2 separate regions of the Homo sapiens genome follow, and region 2 is linked to region 1. A link means that fine-mapping ties the variant in region 1 to the expression of a gene that starts in the linked region. Tissue or cell type: T cells. Region 1 holds a variant in brackets; the other region holds the start of a gene. All regions are shown on one strand. Distances are between the middles of the regions.

The links. PIP is the estimated chance that this variant, and not a neighbour inherited with it, causes the effect.
Region 2: ELMO1 starts here. The variant in region 1 is fine-mapped to the expression of ELMO1 in T cells (TOPMed, PIP above 0.99). The same link has a PIP of 0.9 or more in blood mononuclear cells and whole blood.

Annotation. Positions count from the first base shown.
Region 1 is chr7:37,337,727-37,345,932 of GRCh38, forward strand. It overlaps ELMO1 (engulfment and cell motility 1), which reads right to left. Exons shown (of 22, transcript NM_014800.11): 2 at 4,887-5,037. The coding sequence starts at 4,964. Among named protein-coding and RNA genes, the nearest start is that of ELMO1, 110 kb to the right of the region's middle. RefSeq lists enhancers at 5,032-5,151, 5,392-5,631. The variant T/G (reference allele first, on the strand shown) is at 5,135.
Region 2 is chr7:37,444,692-37,452,868 of GRCh38, forward strand. It overlaps ELMO1 (engulfment and cell motility 1), which reads right to left and starts at 4,173. Exons shown (of 22, transcript NM_014800.11): 1 at 3,984-4,173. RefSeq lists silencers at 3,813-3,862, 3,873-3,922.

The sequences.
Region 1 (8,206 bases):
AAGTGGTAGCTTTCTGGTCTGTGTCTTCCTTGAAAAGCAAGGCCTGAGGGGGCAGGGCAGAGACAAGAAATACTGGAGGCTTGAAGAGTTTATGCAGGGAACAGAAAAGCTGCTGCTCAGAAATGGTGAGTGGCCAAGATGGAAAAAAAAAATCACAGAGTACTAGGGAGCCAGTGAATATTCCATAGCACAAATTGGCTATGTGTCCAATTAGGACACCTCTTTATTACCAGAGGATGCCTCCCACTTGTCTTTTAATTTTTTCTCCTTCCTAAACATTGAAAAAGTTAGGCAGAGAAAGAATGAGAACAGAGGGCAAATGTTCACAATGGAAGTGCAGGTGAAAAGGAAAACCAGAGTACCTAATTTTCTAATCTAGCTAATAATGGCTGCTTTTATTGAGGAATCACTCTAAGCTATGCAACATGCTACACTCTTTTCACATGATTTCTTTAATCTTCACAAGGACCATCAAAGTAGCAAATTATTATCCCAAAGAAACTGAGGCTCAAGGCTAACTGAGCCTTTCACAGAAAGCAGGGCTCCAGGACTGCTATGGTCTGAATGTTTGTGTCTCCCCAAAATTCATCTGTTTGAAACCTGGCCCCCATGGTGGTGGTATAAAAACATGCTTGACAGAGCCTGTTTGCCCCTTTTGCCTGTGGGGAAACATACAAGGCACCATTTATGAGGAACAAGCCCTCATCACACACCACATCCACTGGTGCCTTGATCTTGGACTTCCCAGCCTCCAGAACTGTGAACAATAAATTTCTGTTGTTCATAAATTTCCCAGTTTAAGGTACTTTGTTATAGCAGCTGAAGGAACTAAAACAAGTGCTCACATCCAGGTTTAAATGTCCTTGGAGCCCACTGCCTCTTACTAGATGCTGCTTATTGAAGTGTTTGGGATTCCAGACTCTTGACCGAGAAACAAATACATTATTCAGGACATAATAGGTTAACAAGAACAGTGCATGCAGGAGCCTTGATATATCCAGACAACAAGCATCCTCATCCTCAAGCGGCTCCCCGGGCTTGAAACTCAACAATACATTGTGAAGGCGAGAGCAGGAGTCAGGAACCAGTGAGTTGATAATTCTTTTGAGACCTTCCTGTGATACAGCAAAGTCCATGTCTAAGAAGCTCCTGGGGATTTTTCCTGCTGAGTGGAAACACAGAATTTTCTCCTAAATATTTAGAAAGAAGATAAACAAGTCCATCATGGGCAGACGTCCCTCTGAAAACTCCAGGCACTGATGGAGGGTGGCTGAGCAGAATTGAGCACCTGATAAGATAATCACTACTCAGGAAGCACCGCCTCCCAGTTATTCATTCATGAAATATCTTTTCATTTTAAGGACTGTTCACCAGGCAAGGAGAAACAACACTCAAAGACAGGCAGTTCCCAGTCTAATGACTGCTTCTCAAACTGTGGAAGCCCTTGGATTAGATTCATCTGGTGCTTATCACAGATGCAGATGAAAAGCCCTGCCCCTGGCCAGCAGAATCACAATCTCTGCAGCTGGGGCTGCATTTTGCACAAGCTGGTATATGCATTTTGTACAAGCTCCCTGGATGCTTCTTGTACACAGTCAAGGTTGAGGACCACTGGGTTCAGTTGATAGACAAGGACAATACAATGTGATAAGTGGAGGGGCACCCAAAATTTTGGGAGACAATAGAGCAGCAGTGCTTAACCCAACTTTTGGAAACGGCTTTTAGTGAAATAGCAGCTATCCAGGCTAAAAAGAAGCAAAGAGCTTTCTAAATGAAGCTAACATGCTATGGGAGAGAGGCAGGTTATGTGATCTTTACTGAACAAGGTAGAAGATTAGGAGAAAACCCAAGTAATAATCATTTCTTCTACTCTTCATTGCATGTGAAAACATACTTCTAATTCTTGTGCCAACTTCTGATTCAATCAAGAAACAACATCTGACAGCAACACTTCCATAAGTCTCATTGTAATTCCAGCAACTGCAGGGCAATTAGGAACTGGGTTCCTAATTGCCCGTCTAGGTTTCCATATGTGATTAATAGGAGGCCTATAATTTAACCAACTGTTTACACTTGTCATCTGTAAAACCAGAATAATTATCAAGAATTAGGCAATGCAACACCATGTACCTCTTGATATGATGAGCCAAAAAGGACACATCATTTCTCTACATTTCTGCCAAAAATACAAAACTCGAATCTGATCAGCAGGATATGTGAGAGAACCCCAAACTGAAGACTTTTCCTAAAATAGCTGTCCTGTACTCTACAAAAATGTCAAGGTCACAAAAGATAAAGACTGAGAAATTTCTAAAGATCAATGGAGATCAAAGAGACCTGACAATAAACATAGTACATGATCCTGGACAGGATATTACACCAGAGAGAAAATAGCTATAGAGGATCTTATTGGGACAACTGATGGAATTTGAATATGGATTACGAACTGTGAATTTGACGATAGCATTATACCAGTATTCAATTTATTTCTGGTTTTATAAATGTACTGTGATTATTATGTAAGAGAATGGCTACAATCTTAGGGACATACACACTGAGTGTTCAGGGGTGAAGGGGGATGGTGCTTCCAGGGCTCCATCAAATGGTTCAGAAAAAGTAGGTACAGAGTTCTTTGTACTATCCTGGCAATTTTTGTGTGTTTAAAATTGTATCAACATAAAATTACTTGTCAAAGCTATCAGGCCATGAAAAACAAGGAAAGACTGAGAAATTGTCCAAAACGGAAGGAGACTGAGGAAACGTGACAATTCGTATCCCTGGATTGGATCCTCGAACAGAATAAGGACATTAGTGGAAAATCCGGTGAAATCCAAATAAAGTTGGTAGTTATGTTAATGTGATGTACCAATGTCAATTTCTTAGTTTTGACTAATGTACCAAGATTAAGATATTAACATAAGGGGAAACTGGAAATAGGGTATAAATGTAAGCATATACAATCTTTGTAATTTTCTGTAAATCTAAAATTATTCCAAAATAAGCAGATAATTTAAAAATATATATATTAAAACACACACATAGCAAAGGCCATCTCCAAAGGCAGAGAACACTACACTAACCTCACAGGTAAGGAGGAGGACTGTCTATCAAGAGCTGCTGTCTTAAAGCAGAGGTTCCCAAACTGCACTGACCATGGCAGAATCAAAATTAAATAGTTTACCAGAACCACTAAATTAGAGTCTCTTGGGATGGGACCACTGAAAATAGTTATTTCGAATAAGTGCCTGGGTAATTCTGATTAGTACTCGGGCTTGGGCACCAGGTATCCAGCTCAGCACGTCTCAGATTGAACTACACACAGGGATACCCTGGAGATCTTGTTAAAATGCAGACTTGGGTCAGGAGGTCTGGAATAAGACCAGAGATTCTGCATTTCTAATGTGCTTTCGGGTGATGCCCAAGCATGTGGTCCAAAGCTCCACAGATTGAGAAGGGCAATGCAACAAGACAGAGGGCCCCAGTGCATGCCACTGCGGGGCATTCAGGACCTCTCTACACGTGTGTGAGACCAACTTCCATCTCACTGAAGCCACTGGTCTCTTAGGCTGTGGCCAAACCTAATCCAAACTACATTTAGTCTGCACCGAGTATCTCCAAACATTTTCTTAAGGTAAATTTTAACTAGCATCTCAAACCACATATGAAAGCAGATAAGCATCTGTTGCCTGACTCAAATATATCCGAAACTATTAGGCATCTCTACTTTTCTCTGTTTGTATAGGTTCCTTCTTGAGTCAGTAGAAAACTACCTCAGAGAGCAGTTAAAATGACAATGATGTGTGGTCTGATAACAGCTTTTTTGACAAAAATCCCAAAAATTTACCCTTTCTTACATTTGAGTTTAAGTTCAATTAATTCTGAGCTGACCCGTATAATTCATTTTAATGATTCCTTTGGATTCGCACAATTCCATATAACTCTCGCATTGATCTGCCACCAGATAATAAAATCTGACCAGGAAAAAAAATTGTAAATCATAATTGTAAAATAGTATGGAGAACATAAAGATTGGAGTTGCCATGGTTATTGTAATTTTGAAAATGTAGAAAGCCATCTAGAACCCTATACTATATACATTATGAAACCTGTAAGTATATAATAGGTCTCAACCTTTTATTCCTTAAATCATTTGCTCTAGAGTGACTACAGTAAAGTGAGGACAAAAGTAACCATTCTGAGATAACCTATAATCAAATAGTGCATGAGAATCACACCATACAATTCTCAAGATTCAAGTTAAAGGATGCCTTTATGGGTCAAGCCACTTTTATAAGTCTTCTTGATATTTTTTAATTCAATAAACATTTGTTGAGTATTTACTACATGGCAGACAATATGCTAGACACATTGTGAATTTTACACTAAAAATAAAAATTACAATTGGCTGAAATCCAAGACTGAACCCCTCTATACTAATTTCATTACAAAGCTATTAATATAACAAAGTACCAATGCATTTGGCTGCTTCTGCAAAAAATGAAAAAAAAGGGATTTTAAAAATTAAGTTTTGTCTTGCCTGTGTTCCAACAATCTGCACATATCCATGTGTCATGGCAAGGCAGGGATGGGGCAGCCTCCACTGTGTCAACTGCCCAGGGCCCGATCCACTTGTCCCTCCCACCTCCTTCCTAGCTTCAGACACAAATCCTGTATTGACACAATCCAAGTGGATGCTGGAAGAGTATAAAAACCCCATCCATCACTGTATGTGCTACAGAAATCAAGCACATTGCAACTATTATTGCACAGATTTTTCAACACAGCTAGAGAGAGAAAGGGAGAAGAGTGAGCTATCCAAAGTCTATGAAAATTCCAGTATAGAAAGGAAACTGAAAATAGACACCCAATGCTGTCACGTTACTAACCTGATCAATTTCCATGAGTTTGGGGTAGGCGCCCGGCCATTCTATGGCCACCTTGACGATGTCCGCGGGTGGCGGCATTGTAAGTCCCCAAAATGTTCAAAGCCAGTGGGAATGAGGATCCTACAGCGTAAACGGCCACACGTGTCTATACCTAATGAGGAATGACAGAAAAAGAAAGAGAAGTCACTCAGTGCAGATGCAGGGTGAATTTTGCTTCATCACTTCCTGTTTTCACTGGTGGTTTGGTA[T/G]GAAAAACGGCTCCCCTTGGTGCCTGGGTGCTGAAGGTGCAGGGGCACAGCCAACGGTACAATGGGCTCCTGAGGAAAGAAGAAAGATGGGGGTGCCCGTGCCAACGCCCTTGAGTCAAAGCCGCCAGGAGACGCTGCCCTGTGGGGCACGGCTTGCGCGAATCTTCAGTGGAAAGAAAGCTGTTCCTTACCACTGAGTTCTGCTCTGAATGGTGCCCAGGGTCTGAATGAGCCAGGCTCACTCTCTGTCCAGACATGCATATAAACGTCTGGCACTCAACAGTCTGAGGAAGGACAGATTGCCCAGGAAGTCATGGTCAGGAAGCAGTGTTTCTTTAAAGTGTTTTCTGTGTGTCACAAACAGATCTCCACACTATAGCAACCAGGATATCATGAAGAAGGAGAAACACCCTGAGAGCTCACACACATGCACACCCATACTCCCTCCCCAAGGTCGGTTCACACAATGCACCTTCGGTGGGGGGTGGGGGTGGGGCAGAAAATGTACAGATGTGGACTGAATGGCATTCAGAACAGACTTTGAATTCTCACTTGAATGAATCGTGCTTCTTACACAAAGGAGGTAACCATTATCCTCTGCTGCCTCTTCCCAGGCTAGCCCATTTCTTTTTTTTTTTTTTTTTTTTTTTTGAGGCAGAGCCTGGTTCTGTTGCCCAGTGGCGCAATTTTGGCTCACTGCAACCTCCACCTCTTGAGTCCAAGCAATTCTCCTGCCTCAGCCTCCCAAGTAGCCAGGATAACAGGGGCCCACCACCACGCCTGGCTAATTTTTATATGTTTAGTAGAGACAAGGTTTCGCCATGTTGGCCAGGCTGGTCTTGAACTCTGGGTAATCTGCCCACCTCAGCCTCCCAAAGTGCTGCGATTACAGGCGTGAGCCACCTGGCCCAGCCCCATTTCTTTTTAAAATTAATTTTTTGTTAACAATCATGTGATACAAACTTGTGTGTGTATGTGTGTTTGTGTGTACAAAGACGGACAGTGTAGAGTCTCTTCTCCCAGTGTCACCCACCTGCCCAATATCTGCGTTCACTTCTTATACTTCCAGTTATCCAAAGTCATTAGGTATCCCTCCAAACTTTCTTCAAGTATAGAAGGCAAATACAAAAATACATTATTACATTTGCCACTTTCTTTATATAAAAGGCAGCATTTTTTTTTTTTTTTTGAGACAGAGTCTCCCTCTGTTGCCCAGGCTGGAGTGCAGGGGCATGATCTCAGCTCAAGGCAACCTCCACCTCCCGGGTTCAAGCGATTCTCCCGTCTCAGCTTCCCGAGTAGCTGGGATTACAGACGCACACCACCACATCCGGCTAACTTTTGTATTTTTAGTAGAGACAGGGTTTCGCCATGTTGGCCAGGCTGGTCTTGAACTCCTGACCTCAGGTGATCTGCCCTCCCCGGCCTCCTGAAGTGCTGGGATTGCAGGCGTGAGCCACCGTGACTGGCCAAAAGGGAGCATTCTTTTTGTTTCTTTTAGTATATTTTCTAAATCCTTCTATGTTAGTACAAAGAGAGCATCTTGATTCTTTTCACAGCTACATAGTAGTTCATTGTGTGGATGTGTCCTATTTGATGAACCAGTCCCCTGCTGTGGGCCATTTGGGTGATTTCTTAAGTTTAGCTATCATAAACCAAACTGTGATCCATAAACTTATATATAACTGATTTTGCACATATGCAAGTACATCCTTACAATAGATTCACAGAACTGAAACTGCTGGGTCAAAACATAGGTGCAGTTAATATTGATAGCCATTTCCAAATTTCTCTCCATTGGACTTGTATGAGGTTGTCTATTTACACCCAGCCTCACCAACAGAATGAATTTTTGCAAACCTGACAGGTTGAAAAATAAAATCTTAATGTATTTTAAAATTATATTTCTCTTATTGTGAGTGAGGCTGAACATAAAGAGGAAAAGACACACGCTCCCTTTTTGTGAACAGTCCAAACATTTGTCCCTTTTCTATTGGGTTCTCTTGTCTTTTTTGAGAAATTGATATCTGTAACGAAGATCTTAAACATGTGCATTTGGTCCTTTACCAGACCAGAGTAGGCCTTGTGAGTTACTATCCCAGATCTCAGCAGTAGCTGGACATTACTGAGACAATAGAGATAGCAGAGTTAATAATGGAAGCCTCAACAACACCAGCAGTTATATAAATAACTAACTTCAGCGCAGCTGACAAGTAAAGGAAATGAACCAAAACAAAACCGCTACTCCTTTGGCCAAAGATGATTAGGGAAGCCTGCTGAGAAGCTAATCAGTGGTAACTAGCAAGAGCAAATCTACAAAGCAGTGGTTTAGTCACTCATTCAACAAATAATTATTGAGCCTCTGCTCAGTGCCAGGTCTATTCCCCATGCTGAGGATATACAGCAGCAAATCTGGGATATAGCAACAAAGGATATGAAGAAAAATCAAGCAGCGAAGGAAACTGAAGCCTGTGCCTCTACCAGTGTGGGAGGGGCAGGAATACAATTTTAAACAGGAAACTCAGAGAAAGGTTCACCGAGAAGGCAGCACCTGAGTAAAGACATCTGAGGCCAGGTGCGGTGGCTCACGCCTGTAATCCCAACACTTTGAGACTGAGGCGGGTGGATCACTTGAGGCCAGGAGTTCAAGACCAGCCTGGCCAACATGGTGAAACCTCATCTCTACTAAAAAATACAAAAATTAGCCTGGCGTGGTGGTGCTTGTAATCGCAGCTACTCGGGAGGCTGTGACAAGAGAATCATTTGAACCCGGGAGGTGGAGGTTGCAGGGGACCAAGATCGCACCACTGCACACCAGCGTGGGCAACAGAGCGAGACTCTGTCTCAAGCCGGGTGTGGTGGCTCACACCTGTAATCCCAGCACTTTGGGAGGCCGAGGCAGGCAGATCACAAGGTCAGGAGATCGAGACCATCCTGGCTAACGCCGTGAAACCCCATCTCTACTAAAAATACAAAAAATTAGCCGGGCGTGGTGGTGGGTGCCTGTAGTCCCAGCTACTCGGGAGGCTGAGACAGGAAAATGGCGTGAACCCAGGAGGCAGAGCTTGCAGT
Region 2 (8,177 bases), 110 kb after region 1:
TTTCAATAGAGACGGGGTTTCACCGCCTTAGCCAGGATGGTCTGGATCTCCTGACCTCGCAATCCACCCGCCTCGGACTCCCAAAGTGCTGGGATTAGAGGCGTGAGCCACCGCGCCCGGCCAATAGTAGCATTTTGAAAAGTTAAGTCAATAGCCGACAGAACTGCATCTGGTTCAACATTTGGAAATAGCATCTCCTGCAGGGGGTTAAACCAACAGTATTTTGTTAAAAGGAGATAGCTAAGTATTTCTTGTAGCCCTCTAGAACGTCGTCATCAGAATCCCTGGCAAGTTGGTTAAAAATGTAGTTTTCCCCAGAATTATTGAAACAGGCTTTTTAAAATCGTTACCTACACTGAGCAATACTTTGACATTAAGACTGGGTGTCTGTTTTATGAAATGCTGTTTTCCACACCACTCTTCTCTTTCACATTTTAAACTGCTGGTCTTGGCCTACTAAAGTGATATCATGATCCGCTCATGGGTTACAGCCGTAAGCTTAAAAAGCACTTCTCTGGTTGACTAGAAGGAACCAGAACTAAAGTTGCACAATTAGTAGCAAACACTCCAGGCTTTGTGATGCAGAGAGGGTTTCTTAATCCACCACGTTTTCCAGATTCAACAGAATGTCTTATAAACCAAACTATCTACTTGGATGGTTTCAGGCACCAAAAAGTGGTTACAAGCTTGAGTTACAAACCTTAATTGTATCCACTGTCTTAGATCTGGAAGGGAAATGTTACCTCCATAGGAATGATCACCTTTAACCCTTGAGCATTAGGCAACCTGATGAAGTAAGCACAGTGTGTGATCAGGTGAGCTCCTTGCCTCACCCCCAGCCACATCCTTCAGCAAAGGCTTCAAAGCCCTTTCCCCACCCGCCCCACCCACTCACACCAAACACCCAAAGGGGTTAAATTACTTTGAAACACTCAAGAGTTAGCTTCTTTTCAATATAGTAATTTAGTAAATGTTCAAGACTTAGCTGCACCTGCAGAACACCTTAATGTTTTCTCACTTTTATTTTTCTTCTCCTAGGCATTTCTCATCTCCCCTGCATCTGCCACACAGCCTCCCTTACAGCCTCCTGTCTTCACTTCCATATTGTAGGAGAGCAGAATGGGACACAGTAGATGCCTCTGACTTCAATCCCCTTACAATCATGCCCTTCCTCCTAGGCTAAAGCAACACAGACTTCTTTAAAAGACCTTCTCCAAGGAGAGTGATGAAACACCAGATCTGGAATGGTTATGTGTCATTAAGTGTACTGGTTATCTAATCTCCCAAGGAATCACCTCTCTGTTCCTTTCTTCAGGCAGAAAAAGGGAGGAGTCTACTCAAGGCAGAACAGAGTCTAAAAGAAGAGTGGCCTGGCATGGGGGAAAGGACAGCGAAAAAAGCAAAAGCCCATTACCTGGGCTTCTCACTTGCACTAATGCTGCAACATTTTCCTGGTATATTTCCCTGGTGGATCTCTCCCAGTATAGCCACCTCTCATTTAGTCAGTCAACAAACACTTATTGAGCACCGACATCATGCTAAGAATCCATCCAGGTTCTGGAGCTGTAAACAAGACAAGGTAGTCACTACCCTCATGGAACTTCTGCTCTAACAGGGAGAGAGACAATACTCAAAATACACCAATGACTGTATAATGCCAGGGAGTAAAAGGTACTAAGACAAAAAACTGAGTAACATAAGAGGCCCAGGGAGTGTCTGGCTGCTATTTTATATGGGGTAGCCAGGGAAGGCCCCCTATAAGCTGACAACTGGACAGAGACCTGAAAGAAGCAGGGGAAGTGAGTCATCTGGACATGTGGGAGAAAAGCTCCTCCTGTAATATCATGGGCAAAGGCCCTAGGGAGAGAACTCAGTGAAAAAGAAGAATGTAAGACGGTGAGGGTGCCTGCAGTTACCAAGGACAGTAAGCATGACCATCACTAGAACTGCCCATCTTCTTGCCCAATGACTGCTCCAGGCCCTGAGTTTCCCCAGACTCCCATCCGGGTCTGCCTCCGAGCCTGCCCCTCCCTGATACCTACCATACTTCTTGTTCTCCAGTTCAGTACCCTCCTGACACAACCCCTCCCCAAGAGTCCCAGCAGTCCAGGTCATTTTCTCAAAATTTACCAACCTAATAAAAACAAACAAAACAGAGTAGAAACAAGGCAGCATGCACATTTAACCACAGCCTTCCAGAGATAGGAAATGTACAATAATAAAGAGTAAAGCTTCAAAAGGTCAGCTATAAGAAAAATTAAAAATATGTGATGTTTCTGCAGGGGATCTGGCCTCCTAACTTACCATTATTTTCCCCCAGATCTGTAAATTATGGGACATTAATGCTTGAAACAACCTTGGAAAGTAGGCATGGAGGTGAGATAATATGAGAACCCTGGCCAGAGGAGACCCCAATAATAGCTGCTGCCGGTTTTTGCAATCTCAAAGTGATTCTGAGAAGGATTATATCCCTCTATGTCCCAAAGTTGCTCGCAGGGTTTTGGTGTGTAAATACAGGTCATTAATTACTTTTATAGAAGCAAAAGAGAAACACTCAGATATTCTTCCATAGCTTCATCCCCAAGTCACTGGCAGCGCCCAACAGGAAGCCTCCGCTTCTGGAGGCCTCAACCCGTCTTAGATTATCTGAAATCTTAACCATAACGAATTAGGCCCGAATCATTCAAGGCCAGCGGTGTTGGGAAGCCCATGATCCAGCGCGGGGGGCATCCCAAATATATTCACTGAGTCTCGGGAGCCGTCCAGGGACTCTCAGAGCTGGGTCACTACCTGGGACCAAGCCTGAGGCTGGTCCTTTAGGTCAAGGCAGGTCCCGACCCGCCTCCAACTTCAAATGGCCCCCTAGGCGGGAGAGGGTCACTGGGCGGGGAGTTCCTGGCTGTGCGGTCACACACACACACACCGACTCACACACACACCCACAACACCCCCCCCACACACACACACTCACACACACACCGACGACACACCACACACACATACATACGCGCGCGCGCACACACCACACACACACACACACACACACACACACACACACGCCGCCTCGCGCGCGCTCGCGGCACAGCACCGACTTCCCAACCCCAAACACACGCGCGCACCCCCGGGACAGCTGAGTTCTGTATTTCCTCTTCCTCAAAGCGACTCCGGCGATCGCAGTCGCCACTCTCCGCTCCGATTCCCGGGCCCCCTGGCATGCCGCCGCCCCCTTCTCTGAAGGCGCGCCCGGTGCGTCCCCTCTCCGAAGCCGAGATTTCCACGAAGCTCCACAAAGCTCCCCGCCGCCTCTCTCGGTCTCGGCGGAGACCCCGGTGTGTCCCCGGGAGGAGAGTATTTACTAACCAGAACCTCAGGGGCTCCCGGCTGCCCAGACCGCCCTCTCCGGCCCTCCTGGCCCCCATTCCTCTGGCCCATCACCGCCCCCTCCCACGAGCGCGCTCGCCGGGGGATTCCCTCCCATCCCCGAGTGCAGGAGAAGACGCCGAGTCTGAGCCGCAGCCGCTTCTCTAGCTCTATAGGAATCTTGACTCCAAGATCCCAGCCCCACATCCCCCGTCCCCAGTAACCCCGCGCCAGCGTCGCAACCCTCCCGCGCCCCCCCTCCCGCAGACCCTGGTCGAAATGTCTCGGCGGGCTCCCGGGCCCCGGGCCCTGCGCTTCATCCGCGGGCGCCGCACCTCCAGCGCCCCCTCCCTCCGCTCCCACTCCCACTCCCGCCATCCCCGGAGCTCAGACTTCCCCAACTGCAGAGCGCCCCGACGCGCCCGCAGCCCTCACCCTGCCGAGCGCGGCGGCCACCCCCGCCCGAGCCGCGGCGCCCCCAGGGAGGAAACAAAAGTGTCTCCGCGGCGCCCGGAGTCCCCCGGAGCAGGACGCCTCCTCCCGGCCCCAGTCCCGGCCCCCTCCCCTGCCGCGCCGAGGTCAGCGAGTCGGGGCGCGGCGCCAGCCCAGGAAACTTTACGAACCTGCTTGGGGTCGCAGGACAGCAGCGGCAAGGGTTCCCGGCGATCAGAGCTCCGGCGACCCGCCACCATTGAAGGGGAACTGGAGGCTCTGTCGCCCAGCGTGGGGCCGCGGCGGCGTGGGTGGCTCTGCCTCTATCCTGTGCCCATCCTCGCCCGCTCCCGCTCGCCCCAGCACACGCACTTACACTCTGGGTCGGCCGGCTGCTGCACCGCCGGCTGCCGCTGCTCTCACTTCCTCTTCCTTCCTCCTGCTGGCCAGAGACACATTTTGCATCTGCAAGGCATCCGGAGATCAGCCGCGAACTCTCCTCCCGAGCGGACGCTGCGGAGTTGCAGCCGCCGCCCCCGGCACCTGCGCCAGGACACTCGTGGTCTGCGCGTTCGCCTTGCGCCCGCACCCTGCCTGGTCCCTGCCCACTGCACTTTGCCTAGGGGGATGCCCACGACTTTTTGAAGTCCCCCTACTTAAAAGACAGAAATGTCAAACACCATGCATGCCTCAGATCTGCTATAAATAATATGTGTGCAGAGCATGACTTCGATGAGCTCACACACGGCGTTTGGAGGCACTAATTAACTCCGTCACCCTCATAGCGCCATCTCCGGGAGGCCAAAAGCGAGTAGCATCTTTTCACATCCTTTTTTAATTTTTGGCAACCGGTTCCGGATATTAAGGGGAAACTTCGGTGGGCTGTTTGAACGCTACTTTAAGACGTGTTTGTTTTGACGCTGTGCCTCTACCCTTGGACAGAGTGGCAAAAAAAAAAAAAAAAAGTTTCCTCCCTCTCCGTCGACATCTATGTATTTACTAACCCTGCAATTGAAACTACAAGATGTATTTCTAACCAATTAAGCCAGGGACTTCCTAATTTTGCATAACTTTGCATAAGGCAAGACGTTCCACCCATAATTTGATATTTAGAATAAATTACTTAATTCATGCAACCTACTTAAATCATTTTCAAAGCAGAAATCAAAAACGTTAACTCCCAGCCTAGCTGGCAGGAGGGAAGAGGGTTGCAGGCGAACCACCTGTCCTCCCCCAGTTCAGAAATACCTACATTGGCTCTACCGGAAAAGTCAAAGGCAGTTCGGCATTTTCTTCTAATTGGCAAAGGAAATAAGTCGGGGGCAGGGAGGCATCAGAATCAAGGTGGAAAACTAAGCTCCCTTTTAAGATCTTCCCCCTCAAGAGCCACAGGCAGCTGTTGAGCACTTGAAATGTGGCTATCCCTGAGATGTTCTGTAAGTGTAAAACAGACATACAATTCAGTATTTTTAAAATGAATGTAAACTAACTTGTTAAGTATGTTTATGTTGATTACATTATTGCAATACATGAGAATAGTCTGATGTAGTAAGTCAGTTGGATTCGTCATGTGTTGGGTTAAGATATAAGCATATATAAGATTAATTTCACCAGTTTCTTTTTACATTTTCTGATGTAGCTACTAGAAAATGTAAGGCTACACATAGGCTCTCATTAGTGGCTCACCTTATACTTTTAATGAACAGCTCTGATCTAACTCCTTATTATACGCATGACTCTGGGAGGCAGTATTAGTATCAAGAGTGCCTGGGTCCAGATGGTTATAAGCCAGTAACTAAAGCAGGGTGACTGCAGGAAAGCAACTTAACTTCTGTATTTCCTCATCTATAAAACAGTAATGATATAATAACAAAAGTCAATAGCACCAACTATTAAATGAAGTAATTTAATAAGTAGTCAGTAAATGGAGCCTTTACTAACGATGCTCTGAGACACTTGTAGTGATAAGTATGAATTTGATCTACAACCTTGTAGCTAAGGCATATAAAGACCTTAACTTTAGTGCATGCGTGGTGAGCACTCAGTAAACATTAGCTGTCATAATTGTTCCCTCCTTGCACAGCAATTATGCAAATCCACTCCCCTGTAACCTTTGGTCCCGGGTCTTCACATCTTTCCTCCATGAAGTAGTCTTTCAGATCTTTGAAGTCAGCCCTCAAATTTTACCTAAACACTCTCTTTTGAGGATTAACCATCCTCAATTATTCTGACTCTTCTTCATGTGACATGGCTTCAAGTCTCTCTCATTTGAGCCATCTTCTCCCAGAAGAATATCTGTCTCTGCCCTTTAAAAAAAAAAAAGAAAAAAGAAAAAAAGAAAAAAAAGTAGTCTTATAGATTAATTACGTAATTAACCATTAGCAAACACAATACAGCCTGAGATCTTCTCTCTCTCTCTCTTTTTTTTTTTTTCTCAAATACATCTCAGTGTTGATAGGAGTGCAAGGGGAAGACTGGAAATTCTTTACAGTGTTACGGTTAGGCCATGTGCGGGAACATGGAGTTGATCTTTGGAACCAAAGTTCCTGATCCACTTTCTCTAAGTCCCTTAGGATTTAATTCAGGCATCCAGTGTCTCCCCATATCCATGGATTACATTAAAATATTAAGATGCCACATGACATCCCACTAAGGAGCTCCCTCTGCTAAGCTGGGAGAATAGCATTCTTTGGTTCACTGGTTATTAATAAACTGCTTAACAGTGCAATTGCCAAACTTCAATTTTCTCTTCTATTCATAAAGACATCTTAGAAGTATTGTCAAGTGTCTTAGAGGAACCCGCCTTCTCCCTCAGCTCTGCTGGTGGTCAGCAATGGATGCAATAAAGTGGAATATGTGGTGTTGTCATGTATGTGGGCTCCATCTTTGGACCTGGTTGTTGTGTATAAATCCCACCATTACCATTTACTGGCTGCATTACTCTTAACTCATGAGATTGAAACCATGTCTGCCAGATACGGTTAAGTGAAGATTAAATGAGTTAATTCATGAAAAATTCTTAACAGGGCCTAACACATAGAAACACTCATTGAATGTTAGCTATTATTATCTACAATAGTTCTTCAATGGACAAGTCATATTAACAGACTCAAAAAATAAAAGAGCAACATCCACTCCCTCTTTTCACATGTCAGTCTCCACCCATAATGGTGAGAAAGATCTGTTGCCACTGTCCCTTCTCAGCTCCTGGTCACAGCTTGGGCCATTCAATCATTAGGTCATGCTTTAGCAGTGAGGACGGCCATTTTATAGCAAGGAACAGAATCCAAGTGCATCCCTTCACTTGCACTTCTGGTAAGCCCACCTGGGCAGAACTTAGACCTTTGTGCAGACAGGCCAGCCTCATCCACATCTCAAGTGGTTAGGGAGACTGATTCAGGATCTCCTCTGTAGAACCATCTGTCTTAGTTTCAGGATAAGTAGAGGAAAAGAGAGCAGGGTAGGGACAGATGGCTGGAAAATCAAAATCACTTAAGCCTCAAGTCTAAGCTTCATTCCCCCACCGTGTTTCTATAAGAAAGCTTTGAATTGTTAATGGACAGAGAGGTATTTGGGGCAGTTTCTCATATTTAAATACTTTGATCTTGTGTTTCCCATGTCTTTATCTTTCCTTGTGTGTACAAAATTCCAAACTAGGAGGATTGAGATCCTATCAAAATGTCACCATGCAAAGTGTCACCATGAAACCCCAAACTGCAATAATGGCCTGTTGTATTTTTAATCAATGATGACTCACATTGATCAACTCCTTCCTAAGTGCTCATAAATATTAATTTCTAATTTAATTTTTAAACATTGGATTCTAAATGGATCCTGTGCATTTAATAATACATTCAGTAATTTGCTCCAAATTTCTGCTCCAAATCAGCACTAAATTCCTTGATCTACAGTTTGACAAATCTATTCCCTTTTCTTGTGTTAGAATCAGGCTCATGCTGGTTTGCCTCCAGTCTTCAAACAGCTCTGGGGACATAGAGAGTTGCCTCAGCTCCAGGAAGCCGCTACACCAGGGATAATGAGATCTGGGCAGCAGGCAGACACCTGCAATTTAGAGCCACTAGGGTCAGCCCTGGAACAAGCAGAATGACACGGAGGGCTGCTGTGAGAGGGCATTCCTTCACTTGATCGTTCATTAATTCAACGTGCACTGAATGCTTTAAATGTGAGTTTAAAAGGGAGGAAGGGAGAGTACAATCACGAACAAGACAAACATGGCTTGCCCCCTTTTGGCACTCCCATTCTAGCTCAGAAGACAGATTTTAAATGGCCATAAAAACAAGTGAGGAGTATAATATTAGGAGAAGGACAGAAGATTGCAGGACTATGCGGAGACAGGGATGCTAACATCATCTGTAAGTCAGGAA